4 linked regions of the Homo sapiens genome follow. The protein of the gene in region 2 interacts with the protein of the main gene of each other region in a pairwise test. Each region holds a gene or a part of one and is shown on either strand. Other genes may lie near its edges.

Region 1 (7,038 bases), on a different chromosome or scaffold from region 2:
TAAAATGGTGTTTATGGATATAAACATATTTTAAATTTATCTAGATATATAATGTTACTTTGTTTCTTTAATTAAACATATATTTTATGTTTTTTGGTTATTATTTTGTTTGATTGATAGAGTGTTTCTCAGAGAAAATTAAGTGTAGAAACCAGTTGCTGGTGAAATTTTCTAAATTAATGGTAGAATTAAAATTACTGGGTTTATCTGCATGAACACGTATAGTCAAACACAGATATAATCAAGGTCTCAGATGCATTTTAGAACTGAATGTGGTCTTGCAAATAAATAGAGTTCTAGAAGCTTAAAGTAAAACAAAAATTCTTAGTTCAATCTTTTACAAAGCTTAGCTGTTAACCTACCATCATTAACTCAAAATGAAATGCCTTAAATGAGCAACATTGATATGAATTACTCATTGGGCTAACATTCTTTCCTTCCACTAATTAAGGTTTTCATGAAGTTCGAGGTATTTTTCATGCATACAGAGCAGCTGTATACATGAGAGAGAAAAAATGTGAGAGAGAAAAAATGGATTAAAATAAAATATTTTTAAATACCAGTCATTCACTGAATACATGTTTATTAAGTGCCTATTTTTTAGCAAACACTGTGATTTTCTGGATAAATACCATTAACCTGTCCAGGGAGAGTTCATTTTTAGGACAGACATACAGAGCCTGGTCTGTAGGTGTCCCATGTGTCTATCTATATTTCATTTTAAAGGAGTATTTTGTGTTGTGACCATCAGCATTTTATCAAGTAAAACATGCTTTTGTGAGAGAAGGATTATTTTAGTGTATATGTTATAAGGGTTGCCATTCTTTTGAATTTGAAACTTGCAAAGAAACTCTAGAGAGCAGCCTGGGGGAAAATGTGTGTTTACGAATGACCTCTGTTCTCAACAATTATTCAGCTGGGGCTTACCTTTGTTTATATGATTTTTTTGTGCTTTTTCTTTGGTTGCAAAGATTGTGGATAACTCTTCTCTTCCACTATCAGAAAAGTTTCCCGTTCTGTGGGGAGGGGTGTGCTGCTTTGATAAATTGTTGTTCAAGGGCGTAGTCACTAAAGTGAATGATTGTTCAAGGAAGTGCGCTGCCTGAAAAAAGAATGAGGTCATAGGATAAAGGGGTTGCATTTTCAGCTTTGGTCTCCTCTTTTGTGCTTACAATTAAATGAAGCTATAGAAATTGGAGAGTGCAACTAATTGCTGAGTGAAAATGCCCATGGCAATTGTATCTTGTTTAACGGAGGTCTGATAAATTGCTGGGCCTGTTTTCAGTCAAAGGCACTCATAAGCTGTCACGGTGTGTGTGTGGCAAGATATGAGGGTGGCAAGTGGAAGAGAGGGAAACTGTCCTTTCAAGTTTATTTTCTTGACAATTCATGACAAAACAATTGGGAAATTTGCCATGCTCTTAAGCCCTATTTAAAAGTTAAAACTTTTATTAATAAATATATTTCAGCCAACTTTTTCTTCAGACCAGGGGCTATCCCAGTAGAGGTCATTTTTTGATTTTCAATAAAGTATATATACTCATAATTTTTAAAGACAGAAAGCATGCACTGCAAAAAAGACTGTGTATTTTATTTTCTCTCTGTCTCCTAGTTTTCTTCAGAAAAAGAAGAGAAAGAACCCAATATGGACCTCTTAAATGAGGGATTTGGGTTGGAGAGAAGGAGGAACAGGAAGTAGTTCTATTATACATTCGGTTGCTTTCTTTGTATGACAACAGAAACACAGATTTTATCCTAAATCAAAGAAGTGTTTATTTCATCTAAAGAGAGATTATTATAAATAACATGTTTCTTGCTATATAAGTTGAGTATAACATCTCAACAATAACCTCAGACAGGTGTTTAACTATGTTACATGGCTTTGAAAGATCCTAACAAAAACATCTCCCATACTATTCAGGGAATTTATTCAAATGGAGGTTTGCCTTGGCAAATTCTGTCAGCATAAATGTCAGGTGGTTTTTAAAGATATTGCTTCTTTTGAAACTGTTCAGCCTAGAGTATTTGTAACTCACCATTATTACCTTCAGTGATTCTCATAGTCATTGGGAGTAACAGGAGCATACACAAACCTTCCATGGTTTTCCTTCATGGAATATTATACTGTATATTAGTCTTTATGTAAAGTTTTAAAATTCAAATTAGACAACATAAAGAGTTATACTTTCATGTTAGCAAGTTTCCAAATATTTAGAAACAAAGCCTGCACTACGTATGTAATATTCTCTATGATTTAATTCTCATTACCTTCAGTCTTTCTTGTATGTCTTACACCAGGCTTTTGAGCTCTTTGACCACAGCTATCAACAGGAAAATGAAGCCAACAGGTCTTGACTGAAGAGGTTCAGATTTTGCAGTCTAAAGACCAATTGCAGAGAAAATTGTATGAAGAAAATGCCCAAAAAGGTCTATGTGGAATGTCTCAGGAAGAGCTGTAAATAAATATGCAATCATGAGGTGAACTTTGGCAGAATAGAACTATGAAGCAGTCTAGTTGGAGTCCCTAGGAATATTAATTTTAAAATCTCCACAACTTTAATTACACCTAAGAATATGTTCTCTAGAAAAGTTGCTTAAATTCCCTATACACATCCCATATCACTCCTCTGCTGCAAAAACCTTCAATGACACTAAGTATCTATAAATTGCTTAGTCTGACTTTCAAGGCCCTCCATGTTAGGGCTCCTGTGGAACTTCCTGGAACTCTCCTTCTGGTGTCCTATGTTTTAGCTAAGTGTAAATGATTGTTCTCTAAATAAAGTCCCCAATTTTCCACAGCTATGTCTTTCACTCCATTGCTCTTACATCTGAACTGCTCCTGCTCCTCACCCTCACCAATCTAGACACCCTGAAATTATACAAATTTTTCAAGCCTTTCCTCAAGTGTAACCTTCTGATCCTCTGATTGTCCCAGGTTGAAGTTATCTCTTAGCCCTCAAAACTTACCTAGTGAGCTTCTTATAGGTCTTATGATAGTCTACTTAATTCCTATTTGTACTCATAGTGTTTATGCCCTACATGATTATAACCATGAGAGGGTAGAGATTATATTCTAACATCATTTGTATCTCTTTCAATGCCACTACACAATAAGTAGTAAAGAAACTGCAAGTTAGTAACTTAGTCACATATATAATCAATCCAGTGAAAATAATATTTCATATTAATACATGGGTTTTTTGTTTTTCACAACTCTTCCATGTATATGATTATCTAGTAAACAACTTGATAGAACCTCAACAATTAGATAAAACATGCATTATTATGTTTATTGTACAAATTGTACGATGTACAAATAAAGACAATATTCATTGTGTATTATTTATCTGTTAAACAAATAAGGAAATTGAGACTCGAATAGCTCAAAATAACTTGCCTATTTAGTACAGCTGGTTAGTGAATGCCCTGAGTTTAAAAACCAGCTCCTGATATTTTCATTACATCAGCTATCTCCCTTAATTAACTTTCGATATTCATGATTTCAGTTTAAATTAGTTCACATTTTTTATTTCAACAAAACATTTGATGATTACCCTTACTGTATATTTTCCCATTCTAATGTTCCATTATCAGAATGGAAAATATCAAAAATACATTAGAGGACAAAAATAGTTTTCCCTCTAGTTTTCAAGGTCTTGCTCAGAAATAATCCTAGAATTCAGGGTATATATTAAGTTTTTAAGGTTTTCTTTCTTTCAAAGGAGAATAACACCTTTTGAGCTTCTGCCTTCCCTTCTTTCTTTACTGCACTGAGCTACTCAAAAGCATTTTCACTAAAGTAAATAACTGAGACATTTAGGCCATTTGCACATCATCTGATTTAACTCTGAAAACAGCTTATATATAAAACTGCCCTTTCTGCACATGTACCCCAGAACTTAAAGTATATATATATATAGTATATATAATATAATATATATAAATATGAATAAAATATATTTATATATATATATACTTTAAGTTCTGGGGTACATGTGCAGAAAGGGCAGTTTTGTTACATAGGTATAAACGGGCAATGGTGGTTTGCTGCACCCATCAACCCGTCACCTACATTAGGTATTTCTCCTAATGTTATCCGTCCCCTAGGTCCCCATCTTCTGACAGGCCCCTGTGTGTGATGTTCCCCTGAAAACAGCTTTTTTAACAAATAGGTGGAAATAAGATATACTTTTATGAATAATGAATTCTCTAGGGAAACCAGAGTTTCCTAGCTCAGATTTAGTGTGTACAAAGGTATGGACAATTATCTCAAGTGATGTAATGAAATTATCCCCAAGCCCACATAATTATAAACCAAATTCTTTTTCATTTCTTTTTTTTTTTTTTTTGAGACAGAGTCTCGCTCTGTCGCCCAGCCTGGAGCACAGTGGCACGATCTCGGCTCACGGCAAGCTCTGCCTCCCAGGTTCACGCCATTCTCCTGCCTCAGCCTCCTGAGTAGCTGGGAATATAGGCGCCCGCCACCACACCCGGCTATTTTTTTGTATTTTTAGTAGAGACGGGTTTTCACCATGTTAGCCAGGATGGTCTCGATTTCCTGACCTCGTGATCCGCCCACCTCAGCCTCCCAAAGTGCTGGGATTACAGGCGTGAGCCACCACGCCCGGCCCCAAATTCTTTTTCACCAGACTCTACTTAAAGTTGCCAATAAAGTATAATGTTTGTGTATATAGCAAGTCTGACCCACAGGAATAAACGACTCAACAAAATGCTGAATATTTTATCAGAAAAAGTAAGGTCTTCCTGCAAAATTGAAGAGATTAGATGATATGAGCATTAAACAAAAATTCAATGGTTTATTGAGTTTTAGAGGCTTGTGAGTACACTCTGTAAATGTACCACGCGTTTTACAAATTCTATTGAGTTTATGGAAACTTAAATTATCTAATCAAGGCTGTTCTCTCACACAGCTACTTGTGGGTGGGTGTCTTATTTTCAGGCCTCCAAAGTTGCTTTTGACACTGAATAATTTTAAAAGTCCCAGTATTTGACCTTCTGTTATAAGGACTAGTCAAACTTAACCATATAATTAGGTTACACAACTTGAAAAACAGAAAATATAATGAAGCAAGCAATAAACGTGGCAAAATATGGTGATTAAGAGCATGAGTTCTGGAGTCATGCTGAGTTGGAATTCCAGCACCTTAGCATTAGCTGTGTAATCTCCATCTGGTTACCTATCCTACCTCTGTCTAACTTCACTTGTTTATGTAATGGGGTTATAATAGTATCTTCTTTATGGGGTTATTTTGAGTGTTAAAGAGAATGATCTATGTAACATGTTTGGCACAGAAAGCTATTAATAGGTGTTAGTCATCATTATAATCATCATCAAAAGGAAAACAATACTGACAAGTTTAAAAAATTTGAAATTGTTTTGTTTGTATGGAAAAATAAGTTGGGAATGGTCTCTTATATTCACAGAACGTCAGAAACAAACTTAAAGATCCTCTAATCCACACTCGCCCACACCCATATCCCATTTCTCATTTCTCACATGAGGAAACAAATCTCAGAGAGAGAACATGAGTTGACCAGTATTACAAAAGTGGCTAGTAGTATAAATGGGAATAAAATCCAGGTCTGCTGACTCCAAGTCTAGCACTTTTTCCACTATGTCATGATAACCACCACCACCCCATTATCGCCTTCAATTATTTGGTCATCAGGAATGTGGGGCTGTGGCACAAAAGGCATAAAAACAAAAACATTGACTGTTCATTGAATTTAATAGTTTCAACATGAAGGATTTAGGTAAGCTATACACAGATGAGTAACAAAATTAAACACTGACTGATACAGGTTATTAAGAGGGAGATTTGGATTGTTATTCCTGGAGTGCTTTTAAAACTAAGATCTCCTTTTCATTCATTCTTTCAAAAATATTTTGGATCACTTTCTATGGAATGGTCAATGGCTATTTATGGGATGACTTGCTGCAATCTTGCCTAGATCTTGATGCCATTGAAAGTACCTTTCAACATCAAGGTTTTGTTCATTCTGGACATTTACTCACACCATCTTACTTAATTTTGTAGACTTCCAGGGAAAAGGGGTTTTCTTTAGCAAGTATTTCTGGAATTAATAAACCTATTTTCAGAGAGGTTTTCCCCCTTATGATCAGCCTAAATCCATACTGATGCAATTTAAATTCATGCTGTTCAACACCATATGTCTAAATATCTTTGACTCATATTAAGCTACATCTTAATGTTGTAATTTTTGAACCTATTATATTTGTTCTCTAATGTTTCCATGAGGGTTGCGTGGGAAAGCCACATTTGTCTAGATGATCAATTTTAATAATGAAGGCTGAAGTAGGGCTAAAAATAATTGAGTACATTATAATCTATGGACTTAATGTTCCAGCTTTCCACATATAAGAAGATTAAAGAATTCCTTCATTTTAGGGCAAGACTAGTCTTTGCTCAAATACAACTGTTTGCCATTTAAACATCTATTATCTTAACATCTGAATAAAGTAATACTGCTTATACTAGCATAAATAAATGTCTTTATCTGTGATGTGTGATGTGTGTGTATTCCTATTTGTTTAAATTTCTGCAGATTTATAAAACTTCTTAGTACGCTTTTGTATCTTAAAAGCTAGTCCAGTTGGCTAGTAAGATTTGCTATGTTTCATTTGCTAATGCCATCATATTTGAATTGGTTACAAGAAGGACAGAGCTATCATTTCTACAACAGCTACCAGATACTAACCATGTGTATAGTTGTCTTCTCAGAATGATACTAGTATAATATTATTAGCCCCAGCCTAAACAGACCAAACATCCTCTAGACATGAATACCTTCACACACTGCTGGTGGATGTATAATTATCATAGTCAAATTTGGGAAATTAGTTGGGCAGTATCTGTTCAAATGAATAACACACATACTCCATGCCCCAGCAATCCCAATTCTGTGTGGGATTCTAAAGAAACATGTTGCACAAGGATGCTCATTGCAGCACAGTGGAAACCTGGAAACAATATAAATGTTAATCAGCAGGAAAAC
Region 2 (7,153 bases):
AGTATTTCTTCAAAGTGTCTAATCATTAATTATCTGAAATACTTACTTAAAATACAGATCACTGGCTCCTCTCCTGATGATTCTGATTTGGGGGGGTCTGAAATAGGAGGAACCAGGAATCTATACATTTACAAGCATTAACAGGTGATTCTCATCATTAGCCAAGTTTGGAAAACCACAATTAAAGGTGAGGTTCGCAGAGGCCCTAGTGCCTCAGTACTTTTTCATGGTACCTCAGGCCAAAATAAATAGCCAACATTTCTATTTATGAAATTGATAGATCCAAACTTGATAGTTGTAGTTGTTAATATGGTCCAACAGATGTCACTGTGTTTCCCTCAAAAAGTTAAACTATCCCACAGAACCCCTAGGAATTCTGAGGCACCCCAGAGCACTATTTACAAGCTACAGGCCCTAAAGGGAATTTTTTTCTGGCATAGAATGTAAGTAAAAGCTCTGAATGGGCCTTCTATAAGATCAGGCAACAAAGTGAACCTTGTGTTCCACAAATTCCATTGCTTTTAATATCATTTGTTGCTGTTTTCATATGGTTTTTATATATAGAACAGGCACACCAAACATTTTTCTACAGAGGCAGAGAGCACATTTATTTTGTATGTGTGTGTTGTGGGGGGCATAGATGATCTTGATTGCATATTCTTTTCTTATCCATTCTCTTGCAGCCCTTTAAACTTGTAAAAACCATTCTTATCTCCTGAATTTGACCTACAGGCTGCAGTTTGCCAACCACTACTGTAGTTTTAAAACCTAGGGTATAACATTAAAGTGCAATTCAGTGAGGACGATTCTGCAAGATTGGAAGCCCTCAGTGTTTTTGTTTTCCTTTTTTCCCTTTTTGCTCCAGGGAAGACTGTGCAAGGAACACTGGAAGGACTTAGAGATTTCAAAACTACTGTAAACAGAGGGTGGCCACAGAATTTTCTTGCTCTAAATTCTTGACTTAAGGAGAATCTGCAAGTTATCCCAGTTTAATAAAGAATCCCTATTGAATTTCCAATAAAAGGAAATAGGTTATTGCACTAAGCCCTTTATCAATTATTAGCTGATTATGTGAATGGCTAATGAGATTTCACAATTATAACTAATCAGGCAATCCTTAGTTTATAATAGATTCATGTTTATAGAATATGCCATTTGATATTTCTAGCTCTTATTCCCAAAATTAGTGTGGCTGTCTTGAGATTATGCATTGTGCTCAGAACTTAGGTTTTTACGTCGTTTTTTGTTTTTGTTTTTGTTGTTTTTGAGACGGAGTTTCGCTCTTGTTGCCCAGGCTGGAGTGCAATGCCGCTATCTCGGCTCGGCAACCTCCGCCTCCCGGGCTCGAGCGATTCTCCTGCTTCAGTCTCCTGAGTAGCTGTGATTACAGGCGCCCGCCACCACGCCTGGCTAATTTTTTGTGTTTTTCGTAGAGATGGGGTTTCCCCACGTTGGCCAGGTTGGTCTCGACTTTTTAAAGAATCCGGTATGACAAGTATGCATGTTCCTGTGCTAGTCATAAAAGAAATAAATATCACTGGCAATAGCGGTCTTGAGAAAAACTAGGATATTTCTTGAGGAAACTCCAATCCATATTTAAAAAGAAAAAAAGCACACTTTTAAAAAAGTGTACCATATAGGTTCTTCCAAGTTACAGTCTTACAGCCTTCACCAAAAAGATGTTTGTCGATTAAAGCTTTCCTACAACTTCAAGTCATTACTTCTTTTGCAGGTTGTCATAAGCACCCTGAAATTACCGCTGAAAACATTTTATAAATTTAGTCATCCATAGAGACTCCAATATTCCACAAGGGCAGGGACAGTGTATTTTGCTCACCATTTTATCCCCAAGCACACAGAATTGTGTCTACTGCCTATTAGGTGTTCAATAAATATTTGTGAACTTATTGATCAAAGACAAAATTTAGTCAGAATCATCCAATGAAAAGCATTTTGCATTTGATGACTAGTAGACTTAGATGAACAGTTCCAGGACCACCACTAATTTTCCTTGGGTCATTAGAAACATCCCTTTGGGGCTGCGGAGAGAAAATCCAATCTGGCCGCTGCCCCACAGCCCCTTTCTGTTCTGCGCGTTTGCCTCGCCGTTCTGATGGAGGAGGAGGTGGAGGTGGAGGAGCAGCAGCGATTTTCTTAGCCATTTTCTTACCAACAGAGGCCAAAGGAGGCAGCAGTGGACTACACTGTGGGTTGTCTTTGCGAGGAAGTGGCATTGGGCAGAGATGCAGTTCAGCAAACTTATCATTGCAGCAATTTCGGAGCTGACTTTTCGACAGTGCAAGATCTAGAAATGTGTGCAAGACATGCGAAAACCACCACCATTAACACTGAAGATGTGAAGCTCTTAGCCAGAAGGAGTAATTCACCGCTAAAATACATTCAGACAAAAGTGAAGAGCTTGCGCAGATTAACCTAGAACGAAAGGCACAGAAGACAAAGAAGAGGATGGAAACAAAAATGCAAGGGAGCCAGCAGAGGCTGGAGTACAGGAAAGTTAAGAATTAAACTCTCCCGCTGCTTGGAAAATGCAGCTTTCTGCAGGTAGAGCCACCTAGTATGTATATGGCCACAAAGGGAATTTTGAAGGGATAAATAGAGATTAAAAAAAAAAAAAAGGCTAGATGGCTTTTTGTGTTGTATTTTCCAAGTCGTTAACTGCAAACGCTAGTTTTAAAGAGAACTGGACACTCAATCAAAATACTCCTGTCTCACTCCAGCACATACAAATGGTGTAGTTGAATGGTATATTGGAAATTATATCTATTGCAATTAAAATTGTGTGAGCAATTTGAAAGAAAAGAAAAAAAGAAACATCCCTTTCATCTTTCAGAGTGTATTTCCTTATGTGTCAAACTGGAATATTTCTATCTGTGGCCAGTTCCCCGGGATGCTGCTAGAAACACGTGAGACAGCGCGTTCATTTGCTCTACAAAAAGCGAATGAAGGCGCAGTTACCAGGCCAGTCAACCCAGGCTGTTTAAGGTCAACTACTGGGGGACTTCCACGTCACCTCGATATATACGTAACGCGTGTGTGCCGTAACCCGTGAACTATGGAATCCCTAACCGCGAATCACGTGGCTGCTGCCCCGCGGACGCCCTAGACGACGTGAGGGAAGGCGGTGCCGGGCGGGGCCTGTGCCAGGCTGGCGGGCCGCCGCAGACAGAGCTACCCGGAGCAACCGTTCAGGGGTGAGGCCGGAAGTCCCATCCGACCTCGCGGGCAGCCAGCGCTAGGCCGATTCGAACTCGACCTTGTTTTGGCGTTGCTAGGAGACGCGGCTCCTGCGCGCCCCCTACAGGCCGGCGCCCGGGCGGCGCGCGGGCAGGGGGCGGGGACTGTCGCGTGGAGCTGCCGGGCGAGCACCGTTAGGGCAGCCTGGCGCGCGGCGCCCGCCAGGCGCCCAGTCCTCTGCCATCGCCCACGCCTCCCTGGTGCCAGGGAACAGGTATCAGCGCGCCTCCCCAGCGGCTGGGAGAGACGCTGAATGAAGAAGAGGGAAGGACGGTTAGTCAGGTGAGCCGCGGCGGGGTGGGCGGCCGGGGCGGCCACGCCCTGCCGAGGGAGAAGAGCCGGTCGTGTGCGGAGGGACAGGGTGAAGGGATCCCACTTCGGGGAGGATGGGCTTATCCCGGCGGGCGCGCCAGGTGGGATCTCTAGCGCCTCAGGGGCCCGCGCGGCAACAGCCGGCACCCTCGGGCCCGCGGACAAAGGGTTAACGCGTTGGCAGTGACTGCGGGCCCCGGATGTGAGAGCCTTGGCTTGACGCCCTGGCTGCGCTGCAGGTGCGCCGGGCCGAACGGAGCCGGCAGCCTGGCGGCGACCTGACCGCCCGAGGCTCCCCTTCACCTGCAGCGGCTGCTCGGCTCCCTCTGGGAACGCCGCCTTTTCTAACTTAAGGGCAACAGGTGGTGCCGGTGGACCGAGAGAGAGCTCAGCTCCGCCGCGCTGGGAGCGGCAGTTACCCTCACCAATTAGGGAGCGGGGGCGGGAGTTGCATGGCTTCCCTGATGCGGGTGACCAATGGGATTTGGGATCATGAGTGGACCGGGAGGAGTGGGCGTGGTCGGAGTCTGAGTCCAAGGTTTCTCGTGCGGCAACTGCCAGAGCTGCTTGGAGAGCTAAGCTGGAAGGGTGCTTATCCCTGCGTAGAAACGCCTGCCAATGCTTTCTCATTTGGACCCAGACTCCAGATCGGGAGGTGAGAACGTTGTTATTTTGCAAGGGGTAGGAGGTAATAGTGATCTTGGGTATGCTGTTAAGCATGTGGAATTAGATTCCGAAGATAGGACTATCTGCTATGAGTTTTCTGCCAGATAGGCACTTTGTGGTTACGGCCACTTAGACCAGATACTGGTGACTGGGTTCTTTCCAGAATGAGGTCTTTGAGGTTTGGGGACCCAGGAGAAAAACGTACATATTACTGCAATTTAAGTAAACCAGATAATTTCAATCACTGTTATTCCATCGTTTGTCTTGGACTGTGTGTGTTTTCATGTACGTTTCATATCTCGTCTGGTTTGTTTAGCGCAGCAAGTTATAGTAAGTTCTTCGTGTTGTTTATTTTAGCAAAGTAGAGCAAACCTGTTTTAATGTATTATTTCGGGAGAATAACTTATTCCTTCTTCCGTCTCCCAGCAGTCTTATAGCTGGATCAGCTACCAAGAGAAGTTGTAAACCAAGAAGAGAAAAGCATTTCAATTTGGGACATTTATTTGCACCTGGAAATGGGGAATGGGCTGTCAGACCAGACTTCTATCCTGTCCAACCTGCCTTCATTTCAGTCTTTCCACATTGTTATTCTGGGTTTGGACTGTGCTGGAAAGACAACTGTCTTATACAGGCTGCAGTTCAATGAATTTGTAAATACCGTACCTACCAAAGGATTTAACACTGAGAAAATTAAGGTAACCTTGGGAAATTCTAAAACAGTCACTTTTCACTTCTGGGATGTAGGTGGTCAGGAGAAATTAAGGCCACTGTGGAAGTCATATACCAGATGCACAGATGGCATTGTATTTGTTGTGGACTCTGTTGATGTCGAAAGGATGGAAGAAGCCAAAACTGAACTTCACAAAATAACTAGGATATCAGAAAATCAGGGAGTCCCTGTACTTATAGTTGCTAACAAACAAGATTTGAGGAACTCATTGTCACTTTCAGAAATTGAGAAATTGTTAGCAATGGGTGAACTGAGCTCATCAACTCCTTGGCATTTGCAGCCTACCTGTGCAATCATAGGAGATGGCCTAAAGGAAGGACTTGAGAAACTACATGATATGATCATTAAAAGAAGAAAAATGTTGCGGCAACAGAAAAAGAAAAGATGAATATCAATACCTATTATATCTGTGTGGAGTAGGTTTTCTCTGGTCTGATTTTGACAAATAGAAGAGTGTCTACAGCGTGGTTTGCCTGTCTGCCCTCCTGGATGCTATTAAAGCTTTGTTTTGTTGAACAATCAGATGCCCAACTCTGTTGCCTTGTGGAAGATGAGTAAATGCAGTGCTTCTTAAAGTGGTCTCTTCTCCCTACCCCACAAATCTTTTGGTACTACCATTTGGGGAAGCCAAGCAAGGATAGTAAATTGACCAGAACACAGTTGTGGGAATTTGGTCTGAAGTTAGTGAAATAAAACTTTAAAGAGTGTCTGCCTAGTGTTTTGTGCTTACATCTTTCGGGGGGAAGCCTTTGCAAGAAAATTGCATACAAGGCTTTGTAACGATCAAGTGCTAATCGATGGAAATGTTAAGGTAGATTAACATATATGCAGTTATATTGATCACATTGGTCCAACCAGTCCTTTTTTGAAGTAAGGGACAAGGAGTAAGTATTTTCTTTTTTAAGTTTCTGCCAAATGATTTTTGACGCTTTCTGGAATCAAGTAATTTAATAGTATAGCTTAATTCTAGACAATGTTTAAGTTGGTCTACCTTTATTAAAAATAAGATATTTGGGGTATATTCAAGTGCATGGATTAGTTTTCCTGACAAAGCATGTTTTGGTGTGTAGTCTTACTTTTTAGAAATAGCTATGCATCGTTCTACACAGGTTTAAAACAACTTTTTTGGGGATTTAGGGCTATTATAGGAATAGTTTGTTGTCAGAAGCACTTTCACTTGAAGAACCTAAAATGATTGACTCATTCATAGTAAATATGGGCATGTAAACTAATAAATATGCACTGGATACATATATGGATTTATGAAGAAGGCGATTTAGTCAAGAGGATGTAATTAAAATATGTGGTCTCTAAAATATTCCAGTTACAAGATATTTGTTTTATTAATATTTGCTGGCTAAAAACAAATGTGGTTTTTATATATTTTTGTAGTGTGTTGAGAAGAGCAAAAGCTTTATAAATATACCTGATGCGCTGTAGAATGAAAATGTAAAAGATAACCTGTATGTGTTCCGAGCTTTAATTTTTTGTTTACAAATTGAACAGTGTTACATGGGCTGTCCAGTCCTGATTATAGAGAGGAAGAAATGGTAACAGTATGGCAGATAAGAATTACAATTATAGAAAATGAGGGGAAAATAACAAACCTGTTTTATGAAAATTCACTGGTGCTGTTTACATTGGAATAAAAAGCTCTATAAGGAGGAAAGGCCTTTATCTAATTCTTATCTACAGACACTTACTTCCAGTGACCATATTTTACTAAATCAGCTTATTTTTTATGTCTAAAGCAACAGCTGTTCTGAAAAATCACCAAAAGAAATGCACTTTGCTAGCAGGATTTGTTTTGGCTTTGGGTTTTGTTTTTTTGTTTTTTTTTTTTTTCAGTGGCATAACAGTTTTTGGAACCTTGATTCTTGTGTCACACAAAATGAATGAAGTAGCTTGATGTGGAGCCTTCATATGTTAAATATTCCTGCACTAGTGATGGTCACTTAGAATGTTTATAGAAATGTGGATAATAACTACCAATAAACTACTTGAGGCACTAGGAGAACAGTATTTGACTTTGAATTTTAATGTATTTCCACTTTTGCTGAAGCTTTTAATCAGATGTGTAAAAACAATTGACCAGCTAGGCTATTTAGTCCCATAGTAGTTCAGATCTGCTTAGATGTGACAGGCATTGAAGGCTGTTTTTTTTTTTTTCTCCCTTCACTGATACTGAAA
Region 3 (3,484 bases), on a different chromosome or scaffold from region 2:
GGATGGGGGCCTGGACTCCTGGGTCTGAGGGAGGAAGGGCTGGGGCCTGGACTTCTGGGTCTGAGGGAGGAGGGGCCGGGGTCCCCAACTCCTGGGTCTGAGGGAAGAAGGGGCTGGGCCTGGACTCCTGGGTCTGAGGGAGGAGTGGTTAGTTATCTAGGGCTGACATAACAAAGTACCTCAAAATTAGTGGCTTAAATCACAAAAACTGAAGGTCTCCCAGTGCTGGAGGTCAGAAGTCTGAGATGAGGGTGTCAGCCCTGGCTGCTCCTGAGGCTGTGAGGGAGGATGAGTCCCCGGTCTCTGGCTTCTGAGGGTGTGCCGGCAGCTTTGGTTTTCCTCGGTTTGTAGAGGCGTCACCCCAATCTCTGCCTTCACCTCCACATGGTGTCATTTCTGTGTGTCTGGGTCTCTGTACAAACTTTTATAAGACACACATCCTATTGGATTAGGGCCCACATGAATGACCTCATCTGAACTAATTATATCTGCAATGACCTTATTTCCTAATCAGATCACATTCTGAGATGCTGGGGGTTAGGATTTTAATATAAAGTTTTTTGTGGGGGTGGGGGAGACACAATTTGATCCGTGCTGAGTCCATTTTGTGTTGCTCTGACAGAAGACCTGAGGCTGGGTCTTTATAAAGGAAGAGGTTGATTTGGCTCAGATTCTGATGGCTGGAAGGTTCAAGACTGGGCAGGTGCACTCACTGAGGACCTCCCTCATCCCTGAGGCTGCTGCTGCTTCTGGGGGAGGGCAGAAGGATGCAGCTGTGTGCACAGAGATCACATGGTGCTGAAGGAAGCAAGGGAGAGAAAACCAAATTCCCAAATTCCCAAGGGTGAGCACTCACTCACCCCTTAAGGCAGGCATTAATCTATCCATGAGGACTCCACCTCCAAGACCACACAGCTCCTTATGAGGCCCCACATCCCAACACCTGCCACACTGGGGCTCGAATCTCAACATGAATTTTAGTGAGGACAAACGATATCCAAACCATTGCCACCCAAAAGAAGTGGGCTGAGGCCTGGCGCGGTGGCTCACACCTGTAATCCCAGCACTTTGGGAGGCTGAGACAGATGGATCGCCTGAGGTCAGGAGTTCGAGACCAGCTTGGCCAATATGGTGAAACCCCGTCTCTACTAAAAATACAAAAATTAGCTGGGTACGGTGGCTCACATCTGTAATCCCAGCTACTCGGGAAGCTGAGGCAGGGGAATCGCTTGCACCTGGGAGGTGGAGGTTGCAGTAAGCCGAGATGGCGCCATTGCACTCCAGTCTAGGGCACAAAGTGAGACTCCCTCTCAAAAACAAAACAAAACAAAACAAAAAACAAAAAAAAAAACCTACAAAAAAAATCAGAAGCGTGCTGGGAGCTTGGGGGTCCTGGGCGAGGAGGGAGCCGGACGCAAAATCCTCAGGTCCTGGGGGAAGATGGACTGTGGGCAATGCTGAAGGTCAGTGTGACGTGATGCAGCCTGGCTGGAATGTTCCACAGGCATCTCCAGCTTAATTTGGTCAAAACGGAATGCCTGATTTCCCCTTAAATACTCCCTTTCGACCACCTCAGTCATGGCACCGTCATTCACCAGCTGCGGCGGCTCTCAGCAAGTCCTTTTGGCTCCTCTTTCAAGACTCCTAGCGTGGCCCAACGTTCTCCACCTCCACAGCCACGCCATCCTGCACCGCACAGCTTCCTCTCACCTCCCCGCTCGCCTCCAAATTATTCTCCCTGAAGCAGCCAGGGGCCCCTCCTGCAACCTCAATCCAAACACGTCAGGCCCCTGCCTCCTGCCCTTGCACGGCTTCCATCTGCTAAGAATCCAGCCAGAGGCCCTCCTGGGGCGGCCCAGGCCCCACGCGACCGGCCGCCTGCCTCTGCCCTCCCCTCCCGCCGCACTCCCCTCTTCGCCACCAGCGGGCTCCGCGCCTCTTCCTGCCTCTGCCTGCCACGGAGCCGGCCGCCCTGCATGCAGTTCATCCGGGGAGGCGGCAGGAAAGGGTGACATAGTGGCGGGACCCGCTGTTTACCCTGGGACCTCATCTCCCACGACCTTCTTGGGTCGATGACTCCGTTTCCCTGGCACCTGTGGGAAAGAGAAGTGGGGAATTCTATTTTCTCATTTGGAACTCCATTTCCCACCAGCCCCCGGGGCCGCGGCGGTCAAAGCCTCCTCTACCCTCCACAAAAGTACGGGATCTGACTAAGAAAAAGAAGACAAACGCCGCCACGGAGTCTCGGGAAACTGCGACGCCCGGAAAAACCTCGGGTCTGGGTCACCGTGGCTTTGGCGCCGCACAGCCTGCCGATAACTGTAGTCCACCTTCCCGCGGAGGGGCGCAGGGTACCCCCACCGCGGGGGCCTTCAGGCCGGCAGGTGCCTGTGGCCAAGGGCGGGACAGGGATCAAAGCCCGAAATTCCGAAGCGCCGCATCCCATCGGAGAGCTCAAAAGCGAACACAGCGGGCAGGAGGGACTACAACTCGCGGCACGCCTCGGGGCCACAGGCGCCTCTCCCACCCGCGTCCCGGTCCCTGCTGGGACTTGTAGTTTGTTAACTAAAGAGCGCCTCAGCTTCAAAGGCGGGCATGGGAGAGTGACATGGGACCTCCCAATCCGCCATCGCACCCTGCTCGGGATCCACGAGCCCTTGTTCTTTGGGGACACCACACATACCCCAACTGGAGGGCAAAAGGTCACAGACCTTAGCCCAGGATTCAGGGGTACCCCACATGCCAAGACTTCACCTTCATAGAGGCGATCCTCGAATTTCTTTGGCTGTCAAGAATCCCAGGAAAGACGTTCAGAACGCAGGTCCTCAGCCCTATCCTTGACACAAAATGTCCTCCAAAGGAGGCTGATCCTTTGAGAACAGACAAGCCTGGCTCTGGCACTGGCCCACAGTCCTGCCCTCTTAGCCCGATCTAAGGCTGCCCAGCCCTTCAGGACATCCCATCAGCAAGGCCCTTGCAGGACATGGGCCACCTCCCCACTCATCCTTCCCTGACCCTCCCTGAGGTGGTCGCATGTTCTTCCAGCTCCAGGTTGTCCTCAAAGCCCTGGCCCAGCTCACAACCTCACCAGCTTCATCTCCTGCCCCTCAAAGACCTCAAGCCCCATGAAAGCAACGATGGGAACTAGCTGATGGCTGTAGCGTAACTGGCTGATGGCTGTCAAGTAACTTCTAGAATGAATGCTAGACCTTGACCCTGAATCCCTGCATTCTAAACTCTGTCCCCGGCCAATTCCAACTCCAGACTCCCACCATATTAACCTTCTCCCTTTACTCCACTCCTGCTGGGCTCGGGGTGAAACCAGAACAGACCCACCGGGACAGCCCAGGCAGCACCCAGAGACAGGCGGGTCCAGGCCCCTGTCCAGGGAAACAGGCTGGCTCCACGGAGCACCTCGACTCTGTCAACCCCAAGAAATGAGGGGGTCAGCAGGCCAAGTGGTTAAATAATTAATAAGATTACC
Region 4 (7,038 bases), on a different chromosome or scaffold from region 2:
GTGTGCTGCAATGTTAAGAGCAATGAGGTAAGAATCAGAAAGTTCTAGTCTCCCATTCTATCACCAAGAATGAGAAGTTAAACAAATCTTACAACCTCTGAAACCAACTGCCTCAACTTGCCTCATTCATTAATTCAACCCAAAATACTGATTTACAGCCAGATACTTTTCTCTCTCTGGGTATACACCAGTGAACAAAATAAACACAATCTCTATTCTCAAGGAACCTGAATTTCTAATGGAGGGAGACAGACAAGACATGGAATAAATCAACTAATATATATGTCAGATGGTGATGGATGCTACAGAAATAAAATAAAGTAGGGAATGCTGGGGAGACACACGGCTATTGATATAGATCAGGAAAGGTCCCCTGATACGGTAACAGTTAAGCAGAATCCTGAAGAAAGCAAGGGAGCATTTGAGGAAAGAACAGTTCCAGAAGACCAAAGAGTACAAAGGTCCTAAAATGGAATCACACTTGGCATGCTCAAGAAACAGCAAATAGAGAACTACTAAATTAGAATACTATGAGTGAAGGTTACATCATGGAGGAGAAATAACAGGGAACCAAAATGCAGAGGACTGTAGAGGCCACTGTAAGGATTTCGACTTTTACCTTAAGTGAGAGAGAGGGATTTTTGAGGATTCTGAGCAAAAAATCATATGACATGGTACAAGTATTAAAAGGACATATAAATTAAGTTTTCACATTATCTGAAATTGGGGTTTAAAGGTACCAATTTCACATTTTATGTGTAAATCACTAGGAAATCATATCAAATAAGATAATGAATGTGAAAGCTCTGTAAAGAGCTACAAAGATATTCAGAATACTTAGGCAAATAACTATCCAAATTGTTAAACCATCTTTCTCAAAATAATAAAATTTGCTAATTCTCATTCATTCCCGTTATACCAGTGTGTTTCAAAAGAGAACATCCCAAAGGATCTCCAGGCCTTCTTCTTACTGAAGACTGCTGCTAATAACAAGACATTTTTCCTGGCCTTGACACAGCCACGGACAGGGGGCCAAGAGTCACTCTTGGCAAAACCTGCACTTCTTCCTTCCTCTCAACACAGATGGCCACAATTCTACTTAGGAGACTATCTCTATTAATTCTATCAAGCCCCACAGCCCCACTGAATTATGTCAGTCACTACGAGAAGCCCCAAATCCCAGGACTCTCATCCTAAATGATTTTACTGTTCTCCTAATCTGACCCCATTTCCAATCTTTCCTAAATCTTTTCCACAGCATTTTCTGGAACCCATATCCTACCATCAACAGAATAGTCTACCTATATCCTCAATCTCTTTTCCAAATGTTCCTCTCTTTCTTTAGCTGAAATCTGTATCTCCCCTAAGAATATTTCAACACTGAAACCTGGCTCTCTCCTAAGGTAGTTGTTTTCTCTTTTCTCTCCCACAGCACTGGAAGGGGACAGAGATTACTGAGGTATATGTCCTCAGGCGATTTAATCATTGTGCGAACATCATAGAGTGCACCTACACAAACCTATACCATATAGCTTACTATACACCTAGGCTATATGCTATATAGCCTATTGCTCCTAGGCTACAAACCTGTATAGTATGTTACTGTACTGAATACTGTAGGCCAACTGTAACATGATGGCACATGTTTGTGTATCTAAACATAGAAAAAGCAAAGTAAAAATAGGGTATTATAATCTTATGGGCGCACCATCACACATGCAGTCCACCGTTGACCAAAATGTCATTATGCAGTATGTAATTATAATTTCCCTTTTTGTCTTACAACAATTTCTTCTCTTCTGAACATATCAAAACAAGTTTCATTCCCTCTCCTCTTTGCAATAGCATTGATATGGGAACTAGAGGAGAATTTTTTTTAATGGCAACATTTTAAAAAATAAGTTGAGGTAATTTGACAAAAGAGGAAAAGGAGACAGAAAAAGTATCACTAGGTCCTTCTCAAAAAAATTGAAACCATGGTGACAAAATGAAAAAATGTGACACGGAGTGGCATACACCAAGTTGTTTTATAGTCATTCCTTTCCATTAGAAAGAAATCAAGACACTTGAGTCCTAGAGCAATGTGCTGCTACATAACTTTCTCTGTGACTCTGAGCTGATAAGAATCCATGTCTTTTGCAAAGGTCTAATGCAGACAATATACCTAATATTATAGGAGTGAGATATATACAAAACATACATACTTCTAACCATTTTGATAAAGTATGTACTAATTTTGCAAATTTTATCAGACTCTCTGAGTTACATTTCTAAACTGAAGTTATGGGAGAATATAGCATAAGGTGTCGGCATAAACTTTAGAAACAAAAAGAGGAGCTTTTCTACCTTATGGCCCTGGGCCATAAGTGACTACTGTTCTTGTGTTAATATACTGCTGCCACTGACAACAGCTAAGTAGATCAATCACCAAAATATTATTTATTACTCCAATGGTGGTAATAATACTTATTGAAGTTAATATCTCTACCACCACTGCTTGCCCTGTCTTGAAGGAAACTGTGATTCCTAGAGGATTCACAGGATCCACAGGATTCCTAGAGAGCTAGGTCAGCTGTTGAGAGATTCAGACCTCAAGCAGAGAAAAACTGCTCTTTAGATGCCCAAGAGAAATGACTACTAAAAGGTTATTGTGGAGCTAACAGGAAAATAAAAGGAATAGAACAGCAGCAAAAATCACTAGACTGATAATAAGGATGTCTGAGTTCAATAATGAAGGATCTACCAATACTAAATAAAGTAGGAAAATCATAATTTCAATTAGCAATAATTGCGCCTCGGATAAACCTCACTGGCTACGATACTGCCACTGCGCAAAGCTGGAAAATCATAATTTTGTTAAACAACTATACCTTAACATTAACAAATCTAGTTTTGCATTGTATTATTTATAACCTAATTCCACTTAGAAATCAATAACCACTGGGAGCACTTCTTATGTGTTCTTATATATGCTGTAACACAAAGTAAAAATTATTTTTATTATAAATCAGTGTCTCTGACATCAGGTCTCTTCTACTTAGAAAAGTGTATACTCCTGACAGCAACAAGAGCTTTAAAACTCAAAGCAGTTGGGAAGCTGAAGCAAAGCATCAGGAAACGGTTTCTGATTCCTACTTTGCTTTTATCTACCAGGATGTGTGATCTTGGGTAAGCCACTGAACTTTCACTGCCTATCTCCTATGAGCCAAACACCATGCTAGGCTTCTACATACATTACCTCAAATAACCCTCACAACTAATCTGAAAGTAGATAGTATTATCTTACTAAGGCTCAGAGAGAGGTTAAATAATCTAGCCTAAATTCATACAGCATGTGCAGAACTGAGTTGCAAAACCACCCTATATGACTCAAACCAAGTATCTCCATGATTCCTTTTCAGGACTAAAATCTGAGACTAAATAAAGAGTAAGATGGACTTAACATTTCAACAAAGCTGAAGAGATAATACTATATGCCATTTCCCTTCAAAGCTATGATTATCCTACCCCCGAATTCTGAAAACATTCCACCCAAACCCACTGCACACTCAATAACAAAGTTATATCCCTAGGGGGTAAAAGTGGCTGAGTACCACTATTTTAGGGCATGCAGTGAGGTATGCATAACAAGCTTTTAGCTCCATGATAAATTAAATTCTCTATAAATCTCTAAAGATGTTGTACAATATAAATAAGATTTTCTTACCAACACTTTAATTATTTCCTCCTTGGTTAGAAAAAGATTACTCTTCATTAAATGTTAACAAATAAGATTTTAAACTACTGTAGATTCAAGCTTTAGTAGAATATTACAGTAAAAATGTATCTATCATGAAGTTGAAATTTCATTTGGTGGTAAGATATTACTATGTTATTTTAACATGTTTAATCTTTTAAAATGCAAACTAAATATTTGTATTCAAATTATGCCTAGGAAAAAATACCCATATCCACTTACATTTAATAAAACAAAGATGCTTTTTAAACTCTCCAATCCAACTTAATAAAAAATTTCATTGGACATTTAATACTTATATTAACTTACCTGCATAAGCAACAATCCAACTATAAAAGCACTTCCTTGACAGTAACCAACCTCACGATCTACTAAAGAGTAAGCCTAAAAAGTAAAAAAAAGTTGTTCAAAATACATGGTAAGTTATACCTTCCTTCTCCAAAAAACCTAAAATTGGCAAGACAGACAGATTAAAAAACATTTATTTTTGAGAAAAGCTCTTGCTTGCTTGTTATAGATGTTATCCTATACATATTTAAAAAGCAAATGTTTTATTACATGAAATTTTATTTTGACAATTTCCCAATCCAAACTTGCTAGCTCTAAAGACATAAAATAAAATAAAATAAAATAAAATAAAATAAAATAAAATAAAGGAATTTGTAACAGGGCTTAAAAATCAAGTAAAATTGAGCTGGGCACAGTGGCTCATGCCTATAATCCCAGCACTTTGGGAGGCAGAGGCAGGCGGATCACCTGAGGCCAGGAGTTCGAGATCAGCCTGGCCAACATAGTGAAACCCTGTCTCTACTAAAAATACAAAAATTAGCTGGGCGTAGTGGCGGGCGCATGTAATCCCAGCTACTAGGGAGGCTGAGGCAGGAGAATTGCTTGAACCTGGGAGGTGGAGGTTGCAGTGAGCTGAGATCACACCGCTGCACTCCAGCCTGGGCAAAAAGAGTGCAACTCCATCTCAAAAAAAAAAAAAAAAATTCAAGTAAAATTTATATTGATGTATATAAAACTAGACTAGGTTTAAGGCAAAGGATTGGCGAAATTGAAATGATTTAACAAGAAGTCAGTATTTCAAAGAAGTAGCTAAAAGAAAAAGTAACTGTGGGAAGGGAAATGGCAATATTGAAGAAAAAATGACAATGGTACACCTTTCAAGGGCTAAGTGCTCTTAACAGTGCTGGCCATAGAAAGCAGAAAAATTTGCTCACTGTAGGAACACAGATATGATAGGAGAAACCCACATCCCAGGTTTTGAACTTCACAGATGGTGAATTATTCCTTTTCATGAGGATCCCTCTATGATATGTGACTTTTAAGCTATTCCATTTCCATCAACTAATGCTAAATAACGTAGTAAATGTTCTAACAAGTTCTCTATACTAGATAGTAATGTAGCATAAGAATTAAGGCAAAAATGATGCTAAAACCAATTTCACTGCCAAAGCAACTGATTATTGTGGTGGGAGGTCATGCTTCATCATGAAAAATGTATAATTTCAACCTTCCAGGAATTCATTTCATTTCAAAAAATGAATAAATAAAACTTACCTTCATTACATTAAATAAAACCTCCTGTCCAAGGCTATCTTTTTCCTTAAAAAAGTTGTGTTCAGGGTAAGTTCTAGCAATGTCCCTTCGGATCAATTTTTCACAAGGCGAGGTCATTTTCAGGAGTTCTGAATACTGATCCTTAATTGGCATACTTTGTGCACTGCATAAAAGTTGCCAAACTATTGCTCTAAAGTGATGGGGTATCCCTTTATGAACAAGTTCCTAAAAATAAAATAAAATTACAAAAATGAATTATTTAAGTGTCCTATCTTGCAAGCCAAGGAAGACTTATTAGGGGGTTGGAATGAAGTAGAAGACATCATTAAATTTGTAACTCACAAAGCTAGCTTTATAATAAGACTAGGGAACCCTGTAAGTCAAGGGTAAGATTGGGCCCTGGGTGTATCCTCTTCTGGTCAGGGGATTAATAATGATCATTTCACCTCAGTGTGTGACCTCTTAAGGTAATGGACTTGAAACCTGCAGAGCTGTGAATGATGGTACAGTACCCAACATTCAAAGGGCTGTTGAAGGCAAAAAAAAAAAAAAAAAGGAAAATACTGTTATTCAAGAATGCAGGATATCACAACTTCATTTCTGAATCAATAAAATGAGAGAATTTAATTTCTAAAACAATTTTCGGGCCGGGTGTAGTAGCTCACAACACTTGGAGAGGCGGAGGTAGGAAGACTGCTTGAGGCCAGGAGTTTGAGACCAGCCTGGGCAACAAAGCAAGACCCTATCTCTACAAAAAGGAAAATAAAAAATTAGCGAGGTGTGGTGACACACACCTGTAATCATAGCTACTCAGGAGCCTGAGGCAGGAGAACAGCTTAAGCCCAGAAATTCGAGGTTATAGTGAGCTATGACTGCATCACTGCACTCCAGCCTGAGCAACAAAGTGAGTCTTTATAAAATAATAATAAGTAAATAAAATAATTTTCAGTTATATATTTCTATATGATCAGGACCTCTGTAACAACTGATGTCTACAAATTAAAACTTTTAGGGGTACAAGTAAGTGAAAACAAATAAAGCAGACCTCTTTAATATATAGCTTGGAAGTTGTATTTGGGGTTTTTTTCCCAATCCTCTATTAAGTTATGTCTGACGCACTATGGAATAAGAATAAGAACTTCAACAAAGAACATGAATACCTTAACTTGCTTTTCCTTCTTTTTGCGTACATCTTCCCATTCATTAACAATTCTTCCCCAAAGAATCCAAGAATCTTCTTCAAGGTGACTGAGGTTGCTAGAGGCTGATGAACTCGACACAAGAGAAGAGCCACTGTTTCTTCTTGACCCATTTACAGATCTTAAAGACTTACTATCCGTTTCTAACAATCTAAAATATAATTAAAAACTGTTCAAGATCTAATCGGACAGTGATATTAGAAGAGGCATTGATGATACTTAGAGCTTTATTACTGCAATTTAACCATTGTTTTAAAATATAGTTTTAATAATATACATAATTTAAATAAATTTTGGTCACATCAATAAAATTACTGCTATATTTTTTTCACCTATTATAGCAGTTTGAAAATTTGAAAAAGCAAATTACGTTAAAAATTTTTGAGCTACTAGCCCCATTATAATTTCCCTTCGTCTCCATTAAAAATTCAAATTAGGGGAAATCTGATGAGAAAAGTATTTGGGTAGGCTTCAGGAAAAAAGAACTTATACTTGGAAGAGGTACAACAAATCTATGAAATAACCAATCCTAAAACGTTT

Evidence for each region.
Region 1: the proteins of ARL4A (region 2) and POF1B interact in binary tests that used the Homo sapiens proteins (3 or more experiments, as listed by UniProt).
Region 3: the proteins of ARL4A (region 2) and CYTH2 interact in a two-hybrid assay, tested with the Homo sapiens proteins (one study listed by BioGRID).
Region 4: the proteins of ARL4A (region 2) and EVI5 interact in binary tests that used the Homo sapiens proteins (3 or more experiments, as listed by UniProt).

What each region holds. Positions count from the first base shown.
Region 1 is NC_000023.11:85,369,655-85,376,692, reverse strand, and holds part of POF1B (protein POF1B), read left to right. Parts: intron 1-7,038. UniProt on the Homo sapiens protein: Plays a key role in the organization of epithelial monolayers by regulating the actin cytoskeleton. May be involved in ovary development.
Region 2 is NC_000007.14:12,683,507-12,690,659, forward strand, and holds the start of ARL4A (ADP-ribosylation factor-like protein 4A), read left to right. Parts: upstream 1-4,126; 5' UTR 4,127-4,222; intron 4,223-4,659; 5' UTR 4,660-4,748; coding exon 4,749-5,351; 3' UTR 5,352-7,153. UniProt on the Homo sapiens protein: Small GTP-binding protein which cycles between an inactive GDP-bound and an active GTP-bound form, and the rate of cycling is regulated by guanine nucleotide exchange factors (GEF) and GTPase-activating proteins (GAP).
Region 3 is NC_000019.10:48,479,359-48,482,842, reverse strand, and holds the end of CYTH2 (cytohesin-2), read right to left. Parts: 3' UTR 529-3,484; downstream 1-528. UniProt on the Homo sapiens protein: Acts as a guanine-nucleotide exchange factor (GEF). Promotes guanine-nucleotide exchange on ARF1, ARF3 and ARF6. Activates ARF factors through replacement of GDP with GTP.
Region 4 is NC_000001.11:92,698,096-92,705,133, forward strand, and holds part of EVI5 (ecotropic viral integration site 5 protein homolog), read right to left. Parts: intron 6,650-7,038; coding exon 6,460-6,649; intron 5,827-6,459; coding exon of another isoform or gene 5,746-5,826; intron 5,738-5,745; exon of another isoform or gene 5,642-5,737; intron 5,525-5,641; coding exon 5,300-5,524; intron 4,121-5,299; coding exon 4,046-4,120; intron 1-4,045. UniProt on the Homo sapiens protein: Functions as a regulator of cell cycle progression by stabilizing the FBXO5 protein and promoting cyclin-A accumulation during interphase. May play a role in cytokinesis.